3 linked regions of the Homo sapiens genome follow. The protein of the gene in region 1 purifies or fractionates together with the protein of each later gene. This does not show direct contact. Each region holds a gene or a part of one and is shown in the gene's direction. Other genes may lie near its edges. The genes, in order: DIRAS1, TBCE and UNC13B.

Evidence for each region.
Region 2: the proteins of DIRAS1 (region 1) and TBCE purify together in Homo sapiens (affinity purification with mass spectrometry; one large-scale study listed by BioGRID and IntAct). This does not show direct contact.
Region 3: the proteins of DIRAS1 (region 1) and UNC13B purify together in Homo sapiens (affinity purification with mass spectrometry; one large-scale study listed by BioGRID and IntAct). This does not show direct contact.

What each region holds. Positions count from the first base shown.
Region 1 is NC_000019.10:2,713,995-2,716,303, reverse strand, and holds the end of DIRAS1 (GTP-binding protein Di-Ras1), read left to right. Parts: 3' UTR 1-1,737; downstream 1,738-2,309. UniProt on the Homo sapiens protein: Displays low GTPase activity and exists predominantly in the GTP-bound form.
Region 2 is NC_000001.11:235,370,291-235,373,946, forward strand, and holds part of TBCE (tubulin-specific chaperone E), read left to right. Parts: intron 1-3,656. UniProt on the Homo sapiens protein: Tubulin-folding protein; involved in the second step of the tubulin folding pathway and in the regulation of tubulin heterodimer dissociation.
Region 3 is NC_000009.12:35,164,866-35,168,521, forward strand, and holds part of UNC13B (protein unc-13 homolog B), read left to right. Parts: intron 1-3,656. UniProt on the Homo sapiens protein: Plays a role in vesicle maturation during exocytosis as a target of the diacylglycerol second messenger pathway.

The sequences.
Region 1 (2,309 bases):
CAGGATCCGAGGGCGCCCCGGACAGAGGTCTGCCCCACCCACTTCCTCCCCACCACCTGTGCCCCAGAGAGCAGGGCCTGCCCGGGAAGGTGGCGTCCTGGAGTCGAGTGTACCTGCAGCCATGAGGTTCTGGGTGTTTTTTGAGAGAGTCTGAGTGACACCACACTCGTGTGACCCCACAGGGTTGTGTCCAACATACACGGAAGTGGCTATGGAATGGTGTATTTGTGCAACCTGGGGTGCGCGGATGGGTGACTTGTATCTAAGTGCATCTGCGTGTATACCTGTGTGTGTCTGTCTGGGATGATATGTTTTTGTGGCAGTCTGTGTGTGTAATAGTGGTGTAGGGTATACAGAGAGGTGGGTAGTTGTAGATACCTGTGTGTGGTTGTCAGCAAGACTGGATATGTGTGAGGTGTCTGTGTGAATCTTTGTGCCTGTATGAGCATGACTATATTTTGGGGAGTGGGTGATATGGTTTATCTGAGAGCATTTATCTGTAAATATGTTTGTCCTGATTGAGGGACACGATCTGTGTTCCACTCTATAGCAACATGACTCTAGCAATGTGACTTTCGGTTCCAAATCTGTATCAGTCAGCTACTGCTGTGTAACAAATGACCACAAATGTAGCAACCAGAAACAACACATGCTTATTATCTCATAGATTCTGTGGGTCAAGAGCCTGGGTGCAGGTTGGCTGGGTCCTCTACTTGGGATCTCAGGAGGCTGCAATCAAAGCATTCGCCAGGCAGAGGTCTCATCTGAAGGCCTGATCGGGGAAGGATTTGCTTCTTAGAAGCTCATGTGGTTGTTGCAGCATTCAGTTCCTTGCTGTTGCAAGACTGAAGGCCTCAGTTCCTCGCTGGCTGTTGGCTGGAAGCTGCCCTTTGTTCTGTACCATGTGGGTCTCTCCACAGCGGGGCTCGGAGCATGGCAGCTAAGTTAGTGAGGGAAGGTGAGATGGAGGTTTTGGTCTTATTGGGTGTGAGGAAGCAACGTGTGTGTGTGCGCACGCCCTTTTGTGCAGTGAGAGAGAGAGAGAGATTGCACACATGTGTCTCTGTAGTCATGTGGCCAGGTGGGACTATGTAGGTAACAGATTGCTCGTGTCTGATTTGGTACAAGCATGTTTGTTTTCCTCTGTGTTCGTGTGAGTGTTTACTCAACAAATGTTTATTGGACACACTCAGAGAGAGGGAGTGTGCACACGTGCGTGTGTGTTGCTATCCAGCACGTGGACCGGGCTCCCAGAAGAGCTGGCATTGTGTCTGAGCAGAGCTGGGTCCCCCCAAAACTTGGGCTGGCCCAGGGCCCACCAGCAGCTGATGTTGCCTCCTCTCCTGTCCTGGCAGTAGCTTCTGGGTTCTGAAGGTGCCGGAGAGAGTGAGGCTGGGCAGGGGTCTGCGGCCCTTTCTCAGGGACACACCCTGATAGCACAATCTCCTTGGGGCCCTGCCCACCTCCAGGCCTCTCCCACCTCAGGCCCTGCCCGACCCTGGGGAGAGAGGGCATCTGCAATAGGAGGGGACCCGAGCCTGTCCTGGCTGCTGGCCCATCCTGCCTGGGCATCCCTGGTGCTGGGGACTGTGCCAGGCCATGCTTGCTGTGACTCCGCCCCTGCCCCCTCTCCCCCCGCATGTGGGTGCCCCCACTCCCCCATCGTGGGGTCTGTGTAGCCTTCGCTCTAGACATAGTCTTCCTGCAATAAAAAAGTGGATCCTGCATTCCCCACCAGCATGGCGCCCTGTCTCTGTGGTGGGCGTGGGGTGTCAGCTCACCGCCTGTAAAGGATCAAGAAGGGTGGGGAGGTGCAGGATGGGGTGAAGGGTGAAGGAGGTGATGGGTGTAGGAAGTGAGGGATGGGATGAAGGGTGGAGGAGGTGATGGGTGTAGGAAGTGAGGGATGGGATGAAGGGTGGAGGAGGTGATGGGTGTAGGAAGTGAGGGATGGGATGAAGGGTGGAGGAGGTGGTGGGTGGAGGAAGTGAGGGATGGGGTGAAGGGTTGAGAAGGTGGTGGGTGTAGGAAGTGAGGGATGGGATGAAGGGTGGAGGAGGTGACGGGTGTAGGAAGTGAGGGATGGGGTGAAGGGTGGAGGAGGTGGTGGGTGTAGGAAGTGAGGGATGGGATGAAGGGTGGAGGAAGTGGTGGGTGTAGGAAGTGAGGGATGGTGTGAAGGGTGGAGGAGGTGATGGGTGTAGGAAGTGAGGGATGGGGTGAAGGGTGGAGGAGGTGGTGGGTGGAGGAAGTGAGGGATGGGATGAAGGGTGGAGGAGGTGATGGGTGTAGGAAGTGAGGGATGGGAT
Region 2 (3,656 bases), on another chromosome or scaffold:
TTGCCCAGGCTGGAGTGCAGTGGTACGTTCTCGGCTCACTGCAACCTCTGCCTCCTGGGTTCAAGCAATTCTCTGCCTCAGCCTCCCAACTAGCTGTGATTACAGGCGCATGCCACCATGCCTGGCTAATTTTTGTATTTTTAGTAGAGATGGGGTTTCACCATCTTGGCCAGGTTGGTCTTGAACTGCTGACCTTGTGATTCACCCGCCTCAGCCTCCCAAAGTGCTGGGATTACAGGCGTGAGCCACTGCACCCGGCATTTTTTTTTTTTTTTTGGGAAGATCTCTTATTGTACTTCCCTGTAAAATCCATTACTGTTTTATTCCAATTGCCTAAAATAGTATCTGGCTTTTAGCAGACACTCCATAATATAATTGTTGATTGAATGAATTTGGGGTTTTTGCACCATCTTCTACACTTCATATTTTTATGCTTTTTTCCTCCTTGTCTTTTCTTTTTTTTTTTTTTGAGATGGAGTCTTGCTCTGTCGCTCAGGCTGGAGTGCAATTGTGTGATGTCGGCTCACTGCAACCTCCGCCTCCCGGGTTCAAGCGATTCTCCTGCCTCAGTCTCCTGAGTAGCTGGGATTACAGGCGCACGCCACCACGCCCAGCTCTTTTTTGTATTTTTAGTAGAAATGGGGTTTCACCATGTTGGTCAGGTTGGTCTTGAACTCCTGACCTCATGATCCGCCCGCCTCAGCTTCCCAAAGTGCTGGGATTACAGGTGTGAGCTATCACGCCTGGCTTTTTTTTTTTTTTTTTTTTTTTTTTTTTTTTTTGAGACAGAGTGGTTGCTCTTGCTGCCCAGGCTAGAGTGCAATTGCATGATCTTGGCTCACCGCAACCTCCGCCTCCTGGCTTCAAGCAATTCTGCCACCTCAGCCTCCTCAGTAGCTGGGATTACAGGCATGCGCCACCATACCTGACTAATTTTGTATTTTTAGTAGAGATGGGGTTTCTCCATGTTGGTCAGGCTGGTCTTGAACTTCTGACCTCAAATGATCCACCTGCCTCAGCCTCTCAAACTGCTGGGATTACAGGCGTGAGCCACCGCCCCCGGCCACTCTTGTCTTTTTTTTTTTCCCTTTTTTTTTTTTTTTGAGACAGGGTCTCCCTCTGTCACCCAGGCTGTAGTGCACTGACACGATCTTGGCTCACTGCAAGCTCTACCTCCCGGGTTCAAGTGATTCTCCCACCTCAGCCTCTGAGTAGCTGGGATTATACGCGTGTGCCACCATAGCCTGGCTAATTTTTGTATTTTTATTAGAGATGGGGTTTCATCATATTGGTTAGGCTTGTCTCAAACTCCCAACCTCAGTTGATCCACCCACCTCTGCCTCCCAAAGTGTTAGGATTACAGGCGTGAGCTACAGCACCCGGCCCCACCTTTTTTTCTGAGACAGAGTTTTGCTCTTGTCACCCAGGCTGGAGTGCAATGGCACGATCTCGGCTCACTACAACCTCCACTTCCCGGATTCAAGTGATTCTCCTGCCTCAGCCTCCCAAGTAGCTGGGATTACAGGGACCCGCCAGCATACCCAGCTAATTTTTGTTTTTTTAGTAGAGGTGGGGGTTTCACCATGTTGGCCGGGCTGGTCTCGAACTCCTGACCTCAGGTGATCTGCCTGCCTTGGCCTCCCGAAGTGCTGGGATTACAGGCATGAGCCACTGTGCCTGCCCTTTTTTTCATTTTTTCATTTTTTTGTACAATAGGGTCTCCCTCTGTTGCCCAGGCTGGAGTACAGTGGTGTGATCAGGGCTCACTGCAGCCTCGAACTCCTGGGCTCAGGTCATCCTCCAACCTAAGCCTCCCAAATACATTGGCCTATAGGCGTGCACCACCACACCCAGCTGATTTTTATATTTTAATTTTTAATTTTGCTGTGCATATTTAGCTGGGATTACAGACGCACTCCACCTCGCCAGGCTAATTTTTGTATTTTTAGTTGCAACGGGATTTCACCATAGTGGCAAGGCTGCTCTGGAACTCCTGACTTCAGATGATCCTCCTGCCTTGGCCTCCCAAAGTGTTGGGATTACAGGCGTGAGCCACCGCTCCTGGCTGGCTTTGTAGAACCTTAAACATATTTATCTATCTTAAGAATTTTTCCCAAGGAAATACTTCATAAGGTAATATTTTAAAAATCAAAGCTGTTTTTAGCTGTTTTCTTTGGAGTTGTAAATAAACAGCATTAGAGAAATGATTGGCTGGGTGCAGTGGTTCACACCTATAATCCTAGCACTTTGGAAGGCTGAGACGGGAGAATCTCTTGAGGCCAGCAGTTTGAGACCAACCTGGGCAGCATAGAGAGATCCCTTCTCTACCAATAGAAAAGAGAGAGAGAGAGAGGCTGGGCACGGTGGCTCACGTCTGTAATTCCAGCACTTTGGGAGGCCGAGGCGGGCGGATCTCGAGGTCAGGAGATCGAGACCATCCTGGCTAACATGGTGAAACCACGTCTCTACTAAAAATACAAAAAATTAGCCGGGCGTGGTGGTGGGTGCCTGTAGTCCCAGCTACTGGGGAGGCTGAGGCAGGAGAATGGCGTGAACCCGGGAGGCGGAGCTTGCAGTGAGCTGAGATTGCACCACTGCACTCCAGCCTGGGCGACAGAGTGAGACTCCGTCTAAAAAAAAAAAAAAAAAAAAAAAGAGAGAAATTATTAAGTAAATTGTGGTATCATACTTGGATATTGAGATGATTAATGTGTTGACTCTGTGGCTGTATAGAAAAATGTTTATGGACAAATGTTAATATGGCCAGTTGAGGTAGCTCAAACCTGTAATCCCAGCACTTTGGGAATCCTCAGGAGGATTGCTTGAGCCCAGGAGTTAAAGACCAGCCTGGATAACATAGTGAGGCCCTACTTTATTTTAAAGGAAGTTAATAAAAGAAGTAGAACAAATTATATGTCTCAGTGGTAGTAAAATTCTGCTTACATGTTAATGAAAATTTTGAAAGGGCACTTAAAACTAGTAAAAAACTCATTTTTAGGGTAATACAATTGTAGTAAAATTTAAACATTTAAATTTTATGATCGGAAGATGGTAGTAAATCAGAAATGGCTTTGGAATTTCTTTCATTGCAACCTTAATAGTAAGCAACAGTCTTTCCCATGAAAGGGACAGAAAAAAAAGAATGTAACGTCTACATTTTTTTTTTTCTTTGAGACGCAGTCTCACTCTGTGGCCCAGTCTGGAGTGCAATGGCACGATCTTGGCTCACTGCAACCTCCGCCTCCAGGGTTCAAGCAATTCTTGTGCCTCAGTCTCCCAAGTAGGTGGGATTACAGGCACTCACCACCATGCCCGGCTAATTTTTGTATTTTTATTTTTATTTATTTTTATTTTTATTTTATTTTATTTTATTTTTGAGACGGAGTCTCGCTCTGTCGCCCAGGCTGAAGTGCGGTGGCGCGATCTCGGCTCACTGCAAGCTCCGCCTCCCGGGTTCACGCCATTCTCCTGCCTCAGCCTCCCGAGTAGCTGGGACTACAAGCGCCCGCCACCACGCCTGGCTAATTTTTTTGTATTTTTAGTAGAGACGGTGTTTCACCGTGTTAGCCAGGATGGTCTCGATCTCCTGACCTCGTGATCCTCCCGCCTCGGCCTCCCAAAGTGCTGGGATTACAGACGTGAGCCACCGCACCCAG
Region 3 (3,656 bases), on another chromosome or scaffold:
CTGAACAGTGCCACTAGTTTGGAAATGAATCATATGCTGCCTGCAACTGGTCTTGTATTGTGGTGCTTATGGTGACCCAGACAAAGGAAGTAATTGCACTGGTCAGATCAGATCTGGAATTTTGTGTTCAGCTGTGGTATTTCCTTCTAAGAAGCATATTGAGAAGCTAGGTTATCTTAAGAGGGGAGTGATTAGAATAATGAAACATGTAGGAACCGAACCATTTGAAGAATATGGGAAATTTAGTTGTAGAAGATTTAAGAGGAAGAGGATCACGATAGTACATGAAGACTGTTTAAAAAACTGTCTTGTAGAAGTTATGTCACCTTTTTTGTTGTCATTCCAGAGGACAGAACTGGGACAAGTGTGGATCAGTGGTTGAAAATGACAGGAAATTAGATTTTAGCTTAACATAAAGAAGAACAGTTGGGTTGTTCAGAACAAATGGAATGGGCTATGTAGATTTTTTGACACTAAACAGAAATTGAATGAGTGGTAAGGATTCTAAAGGGGATATTGACCATTCAGCGGGTGATTGACTTGAATTTTTTTTTTTTTTTTTTTTTAATTTTTTGAGATGGAGTCTCTGTTGCCCAGGCTGGAGTGCAGTGGCATGATCTCAGCTCACTGCAACTTCTGCCTCCCAGGTTCAAGCGATTCTCCTGCCTTAGCCTCTGGGGTAGCTGGGATTACAGGCGCCTGCCACCATGCCTGGCTAATTTTTTGTATTTTTAGTAGAGACGGGGTTTCACCATGTTGGCCAGGCTGGTCTCAAACTCCTGACCTCGTGATCTGCCCACCTCGGCCTCCCAAAGTGCTGGGATTACAGGCGTGAGCCACTGCGCCCGGCCTAGACTTGAATTTTTAAGAAACCACTCTTTTATAGAATTCACTTAGTCTTTCTTTAAATATTTCCATAAGTATAAAGAAATATAAGTCTTTAACATGTTTTGGCACAGCTTTACTTATAATACGGATACTTTTTTTGGGCTTCCATAGGGACCAGTGCCACATGAACAACTGCAGTAAACTAAATTAAGGATTTTGTTTGACTTTTATTGTCTTGGTATTCACGACCAAGTTTCTCCAAGCAATTATAAGCATTTTTAGAATCAGACCTTTCCATAATATTTCTCTGTAATTCCCAGTGTTTATAACATAGTTATTCCCAGTGTTTATAACATAGTTAGATAATTTAACTATGGATTTTTTTCCCCCAAAAGTAATAAATGCAGGCCAGTCGTGGTGGCTCTTGCCTGTAATCCCAGCACTTTGGAAGGCTGAGACAGGTGGATCACTTGAGGACATGAGTTTGAGACCAGCCTGGCCAACGTGGTGAAACCCCATCTCTACTAAAAATACAAAAATTAGCCAGGTGTGGTGGTGCTCACCTGTAATCCTAGCTACTTGGGAGGCTGAGGCATGAGAATTGCTTGAACCCAGGAGGCAAGGTTGCAGTGAGCCAAGATCATGCCACTGTACTCCAGCTTGGGTGACGAAGTGAGACCCTGTCTCAAAAAAAATATGTGTATGGTAATACATTGCTAATTATAGAAAATTTAAAAAATGCAGAAAAGTACAAAAAAAGAAAAAAATTTCCATGGGCCTACCACCTGCCAATACCATTGCTAACTTTTTTTTTAAATTTAATTTTTTTTTTAAAGATGGGATCTCACTATGTTGCCTAGGCTGGATTTGAACTCCTGGGCTCAAGTGACTGTCTTTTCTCAGCATCACGAGTAGCTGGGACTACAAGGAACACACCACCACACCCAACTATTGTTAACTTTTTAATTCATTGTTTTCATTTTGTTTTTATTATAAGGTGATAAATATACAGATAAGAAGTTGAAACAGTTTAGAGTGTAAAGTAGAAGGAAAAGTTCTCTTGTCCCCATTCGGTATTCTTACTTCCCAGAGGTAACTACTGTTTACTGTCTCTTACCTATCCTTCTGGAAATTTTCATTGCAGATGAGTATATAGGTTCTGCAGTTGAATGTACATAGCATTCTTCAGCTTTTTTTGTTTTTTAACCTCAATGATCTATTTTCCTGTCAGGTCATCTGAGTCTAAACCAAGCTTGTCCAGCCTGTGGCATGTGAGCTGCATGTGGCCCAAGACGGCTTTGAATGTGGCCCAACACAAATTTGTAAACTTTCTTAAAACATTATGAGATTTGTCAGCTATCATTAGTGTTAGTGTATTTTTTTTATTTTATTTTTATTTTTTGAGACAGTCTCGCTGTGTCGCCCAGGCTGGAGTGCAGTGGCGCGATCTCAGCTCACTGCAACCCCTGCCTCCTGGGTTCAAGCGATTCTCCTGTCAGCCTCCCAAGTAGCTGGGATTACAGGCGCCCATCACCACGCCTGGCTAATTTTTTGTATTTTTAGTAGAGACAGGGTTTCACCTTGTTAGCCAGGATGGTCTCGATCACCTTACTTCATGATCCGCCTGCCTTGGCCTTGCAAAGTGCTGAGATTACAGGCATGAGCGCCTGGCCAGTGTTAATGTATTTTATGCATGGCCCGAGATAATTCTTCTTCCACTGTGGCCCAGGGTAGCCAAAAGGTTGGACACCCTGGTCTATACCATTCTTTTGAATGGCTGCAGAGTATTCTGTTATATAAGCATACATAATTTAAACAGTTTTATATTGATGATATTCAGGATATTTTTCTTTTCACTATTACAAACAGTGCTACAATGAACATCTTTGTAGGTTTTTTTTTTTTTTTTTTTGAGATGGAGTCTCACACTGTTGCTCAGGCTGGAGTGCAGTGGCGCCCTCTCTGCTCACTGCAACCTCTGCCTCCTGGGTTCAAGCAATTATCCTGCCTCAGCCTCTTGAGTAGCTGGGATTACAGGTGCCTGCCACCATGCCTGGCTAATTTTTTTTTTTTTTTTTTTTTGTATTTTTAGTAGAGAAGGGGGTTTCACTATGTTGGCCAGGCTGGTGTTGAACTCCTGACCTTGTGATCTGCCCTCCTCGGCCCCCCAGAGTGCTGGGATTACAGGCGTGAGCCACCACGTCCAGCCTGTAGATGGTTTTTAAACATTTGTTTTTATTTTTGAGACAGGGTCTTGCATTGTCACCCAGGCTGGAGTGCAGTAGTACGATCGTGGCTCACTGCATCCTCAAACTCCTGGGCTCAATCTGTCCTCCCATCTCAGTCTCCTGAGTAGCTGGGACTACAAGTGCATGCCACCATGCCTGACTAATTTTTCTACTTTTTGTAGGATGGAATTGCCCTATTTTGCCCAGGCTGGTCTTGAACTTCTGGACTCAAGTGATCTGCCCACCTTGGCCTCCCAAAATGCTAGGATTACAGGTGTGAGCCACTGCACCTGACCAGTTTTTTTATTATTAATTTTTTTCTTTCCAACTTTTAAGTTCAAGGGGTACATATGCAGGTTTGTTACATGGGTAAATTGCATATTGCCATATTGCAGGGGTTTCATATACAGATAATTTTGTCACCCAGGTAATCAGCATAATACCCAAATAGGTAGTTTTCAGTCCTTACCCTCCTCCCACTCCATAGATGGTTTTTGTTATATGTTTGGAGATCTCCAATTAGCTTTCCACCTGGACTTTATGTGTAATTTTCTCATTGCTGTTTTCTTTGGCATATAATTATACTCAGTTGGACCAAAT